Regions from separate parts of the Homo sapiens genome. Here region 2 is linked to region 1. Evidence: fine-mapped expression QTL. Tissue or cell type: whole blood. Region 1 holds a variant in brackets; the other region holds the start of a gene. All regions are shown on one strand. Distances are from middle to middle.

Evidence for each region. PIP is the estimated chance that this variant, and not a neighbour inherited with it, causes the effect.
Region 2: ANTXR2 starts here. The variant in region 1 is fine-mapped to the expression of ANTXR2 in whole blood (INTERVAL, PIP 0.95).

What each region holds. Positions count from the first base shown.
Region 1 is chr4:79,950,887-79,953,575 of GRCh38, forward strand. The region is part of intron 16 of ANTXR2 (ANTXR cell adhesion molecule 2); the gene reads right to left. Among named protein-coding and RNA genes, the nearest start is that of ANTXR2, 120 kb to the right of the region's middle. The variant C/T (reference allele first, on the strand shown) is at 1,577.
Region 2 is chr4:80,071,815-80,074,503 of GRCh38, forward strand. It overlaps ANTXR2 (ANTXR cell adhesion molecule 2), which reads right to left and starts at 1,415. Exons shown (of 17, transcript NM_058172.6): 1 at 595-1,415. The coding sequence starts at 746. RefSeq lists a silencer at 705-864 and enhancers at 1,045-1,154, 1,485-1,764.

The sequences.
Region 1 (2,689 bases):
CTCTGCTACACACCTAGCTCCACATAGTAATCAAGTCCTGCTAGCATCCCCCTTTCAACTCAGATTGTCCCATTCTGATGGAGTGCTACTGTCTCATGGGGGCCCTAACAAGGTGGTTCCTGCATTAGCCCAGTTGCCTTCTGCTCTTACCTTCAGTCCTTCTAAGAGTATACTGCCTGTCACCAAGATAATACTTGTAGGAAAACAAAATAAAACAAACAAAAAACCCAACTTGTTTTCATGAAGTCTTAGTACAAAATTAGAAAACAAAATTCAATAAAATATTTTTGTTTGATGGGACACAGATTTATTTAAAATTTTAAAGTTGAGAAACAGCAATAAATATTTGTTGGACATTCATAGCTAAGTGCTAGTCTAATATACTACATTCTCCAGAACTGAACAGGACTCTGCTGGGCGTGGTGGCTCATGCCTATAATCCCAGCACTTTGGGAGGCTGAGGGAAGGGGATTACTCATGGTCAGGAGTTTGAGACCAGCCTAGCCAACATGGTGAAACCCTGTCTCTACTAAAAATACAAAAATTAGCCAGGCATGGTGGCAGCTGTAATCCCAGCTACTCAGGAGGCTGAGGCAGGAGAATTGCTTGAACCTGGGAGGCGGAGGTTGCAGTGAGCCAAGATAGCGCCACTGCATTCCAGCCTGGGGGACAGAGAGAGACTCTATCTCAAAAAACAACAACAACAAAAAAAAAAAAACAACAAAAAGAACAACCAAACGGGACTTAGATTTATTCTCTATTATTTCCCCACATATAGCTCAAAAGTTGCTAAAGAAAATAATTGAATCACTGTCCCAGAACAAATGTAAATGTTCCTACTTTCTCTACCTCTACAAATCCTTCAAGATTAACTCAACTCTCTCTTCTATAAAACCTCACCTTACCTCTTGGTCTGAAGTATTCTTCCTTAATAACTCAAACAGCAATTAATGTCCAGACAATTCATTTAGAAATTAATTAGGCAACACTTTTGTGTAATCTCTTCTGTTACTTCCTTGAATTGATGTTTAAATATTTCATTATTTTACGTTGTATATGTGGATTGTTGCCCTTTTGAGTAGATTACAAACTTGTTGATAACTATGTATTAAATATTTTGGGGTTTCAAAGACTGCCTGAAAATAGTGGGTACTCAGGAAAAAATGGCTAATTTTATTTTATGCCTATCATGTCCTAATTCTAGCAAATTTTTTTAAACCACCAAAATTATTTGATGTGGAATTATAATTGTGGAGTTTTCAAATATATATAATAGGTATATATAAACTATTTGCTGTTTATATATAAATATATATCATATATATAATTCTAATTAGATTAGATTCTAATTAGAATCCATCTTGACTATACAACTGGTTTTATCTTCTGTTTTTATTTGTTAATTGCATTTTGCTTGCTCTGCTTTGGGTTATAATTTTTGAGGCTTTTCTTTATCCCCCACTACATCTAGACTGTAATAAATTCCTAGCAGGTAGGGATTATCTAGTATTCACTAGATTTTTTAAAGAAAAAAATTTTTTCTCGAGAACCTGTTGATAACTTGTAGCTCATTTTC[C/T]TTTGTCTAATCTTACTAGAAAATATTTTCACCAAAAATTTAGAAAAGTCAGAAATGTGTTTAAATGCTCATGTGTTAAATGCTCCAACATGCCAAAAAGAAAAATTATAGCACTTATAATTTAAGTTTTAATATTCATCTGTAATCTTACAGAGAATATGTTGTATTTTCATTAATACTATTAATTAATCCAAAATTTCACTTGTTTATTATTTCTAAGATTTCAGAAACAAAGCAGTAAATGTTTATAAATGATTAGAAAAACTGTTTGCTCTAAAGAGTATAAAAAGCCTTAAAATGTAGTTTACATGGGTATTTTTCTTATGCCTTCAGTTATAAAAACCATCTTATTATTATTAATAATAGTAATATTATTATTTTATACAACAGAGAGTACAAAGAATGATGCCCTAGGAATAAAGGAAACCTCCTATTTCTTATAATTTGATAAAACTTTCTTTCTCAGCAAAATATTATATAATATTAGCATGCCACAACATGAAAGTCTTTCAAGATGCCTCATCTAAACAACAAGTTCTATGACAGCTGTATCATGGGGAACCCTTGGCCCCTCCATGTGAAATAGGGAATGTAAGGACTGAGGTGTCTACCACAGGACCTAGTGTTGAAGGCAGGCAGACTGAAGAGGAGGCCGACCTCCAGATGCTCAACCCTCAGTTCCCAGTACTCACACACTAAGGATTTCTCATCAAAAAAATAGCTGGCAGCCCATTTGCCTCAGTTTTCACTAACGTACCTGAAGAGATATTAAGACTTTAAAAACCATTTCAGGATTGAATTTTTGTAAGATGATTTTGGGCACACTATTTTCAGATACATCAAAGAATAAATTTGATTAGTGAAATCAGTTGCTCCATAGATCAAAATAAGAGCTCAAGCTCTCAGAATGATCTGGGAAATAAACAGTAAATTCACAGTAAATTTAACGGAAGTCTAAAATGATGAAAGATTCTGAAAACTAGATTTTAAGAGGGAATTATAAATAATAAATTATGACTGTGCCAACAGTATCCTAAACTAAAAATGATGGCTTTTCCATAGTAAATCTGAGAGCTTTGATAATTGAAATATATAATTTGGGATTGTGTCATA
Region 2 (2,689 bases), 120 kb after region 1:
GTTAAAGAAGTCAGTCCCAGAGCAAGACTCCGTCAAAAAAAAAAAGAAGAAGAAGAAGTCAGCCCGTTTTCTGGGGTGGGTAAATACCTGCCTAATTGTTTAGAGTGGAACCCAGCTCTTCAGAGTAAACACAAAAGCCTTTCTTCGCAGGAAATGCAAACCACATTGGGCATGTTAACCCTAGGCTTTTCCTGGCTCCAATGAAAGCGCTATGATTAGGATAAAACCAGGCAAACTTTAGCCTGCGTACGAGCAGGGTCGAGGAGGTGGGTAAGGACTCTGTGGCCGATGGAGCGTGGCCCGCAAGAGGCCACACTCCCATTTCCCAAGAGGCCAAAAGACTGGCAAACAGTGAATACCCCAACTCCCCAAAGAGCCAAGTAGCCCGGGGCTCCAATCACTACCCCCGACCCGGCTGATCTCCGCCCACACAGATCCGAACGCGCTTGCCCTTTGAAAGAAGACAGCAACAGGGCACCCCTCCGCGGGTTTCCAACACCACTCCCCGGGGTGCGCACACGCATCTCAGCCTCAGCCCCAGCTGATCCAGTGCCGCCCTCACCAGGAGACCCTGGACCTCCCTCGCACACTCACTTGTCCAGGACGAAGTAGAGATCAAAGGCTCTTCTGCAGGAGGGCTGCTCCTGGGCGCGCAGCAGCCCCCCGGGACCGCTGAGCACCAACAGCCACAGCCCGGGGAACAGCCAGCTCCCGGGGCTGCGGGCCGGGGACCGCTCCGCCACCATCCTGCGGCCGGGGGCCTGAGACTCCCTCCCGCTCGCAGTCCCCTAAGCTCAGGAGGGTCGCAAAGGTGGCGGGAGTCACCCGGCACGCACTCTGGGGTGGGGGGCGGCGAGCAGCTGAGACGCCGGCGCCTGCGGCAGCGGGACCCACCAGCTGACAGGGAGGGAGAGAGGGAGGTCCTGAGAGGACAAAGGGAGTCTCCGCCACCGCCGCAGCTGCCGCCGGAACTCTTGACGAATCCCAGTGGAAGCGCGATCCAGTCCTCCCCCTCCCGATTCCGGAGAGTTCCTGCAGACAATGCGGGCCCACGGCGACAGCTCGCGAAAGGAGTTCCTCTCCGGCCTGGGGCCGAGCCTCCAGCGCCCGCCTCGGACCCGGACCTGGAACCCACCCCGCCTGGAGGGCTGAAGTCCCCCCCGCTGCCGTGCGCTTCGGGACAAGGGGTCCCTGGGACGCGGCGACGGCAGAACAAACTAGGAGTGGAGACTCTTCTCCTCCGGCGGCCCCAACTCCCTCCGCACTCCGAAACTTTCCTCCCGGTGCTGGACTCTGGCACTGCGCTGACAGGCCGTCCCCTTTAGGGGAGGAGGCTAGCTGGCCCTGGGACTCCCGGCTGGAGAGAAGCCACGCCGAGGGCAGGAGCCCGCTCGGGCCGGGTCTGGGCTGCGTGTGTCAGTGTGCGCCTGGGGACGAGGGCGGGGCCCCAGCTGAAGCCTCCGAGCCACACATGCACACTTGTGGGTTCCTGCCGAGTTGAAGATGACTAACGCTTGCCAGATTTGGGAAAGGGAAGAAGGAGTTTAGAAAAACAAAAGTTATCTAGAAACTAAACATACCCGTATGTCCTGCAGGCCTGGCCTATTTTAGCAGCTGTGCTAAAACAGCCCCCATGCGTGGTTCACAAACCCAAGACTAAGGATTCCATGGGAGGTGACGGCCTCCTCACTCCTCACTCCACCCCACCCCTACTACCACAAACACTCTTTATGAACTTCCTCTTTTTCTTCTAAAGAAACCTGCTTAGTTTTTTTTTTTTTTTTCTTTAAAAAAAGCCAAGCCAAGGAAAGGCCGGAGTGGGGAGTGGGAGGGGATAGCAGGCCTCTTTGGGAGTGGAAAGTTGTACCTCAAAATATTTCAGCCCACTGTCATTTCCCTGCAAGCTCCAGTTTTGGAGAATTTCAGCTTTGGGCAAGCTAGGTCTCCTTTGCAAAACTTGTGCAAGCACTCAAGTTTGTGCACAAATCCTCTGTCTACTAGTTCTGCTCTCCCTCCTCTCTCTTCCCCCCACCTCCGTGACTTCCGCCCTCCCTTAGTCAAAACTGGCTTTTAGAACCTAAATACCTTTTCATTTTTAACAAAATCAATGCTTTATGTAGTACTTACATATACATCTCTTCTGTTTGTTGCCATATGTATTTAACTTTTCATTTATTATATTTGATATACAACCAGATATGTCAGCTCTTTGAAGATAAAAATTAGTTACTTTAACAAAGATTCATTGAGTGCCTATTATTTGCTAGGCACTGTTCCAGAAGTGGAGGTTAGTGCACAGAACAAGATAACAAGCCCTTGCTTTCATGAAGCTGACAGTCTGGCTGAAGAGTGAAAACAGACAATAAGAAATAAATACATAAGCAAGGAAAAAAAATGTCCATATTGGAAAGGTGGCCTGTAGAAATTTAAAATATTGTGATGATAAAGAATGACAGACTCAGTGACTAACAAAAAAGACCCAGTCATTCCAAGAGCTCTAAGGGGAAACATTTGGAGTTACTGCAAAGGTCCATAGACATTAGCTTAGCATATTCAAAAAAGAAAAAAAAAAAACTGTGTAGCTGGAGCTTTGCAGGTAAGATGATGTAAGACAAATAGGCAAGGGCCAGATTATGTGATGCTTTGTTTACTGAGATAAGGAATTCAGATATTTAATATTGAGTGTGAC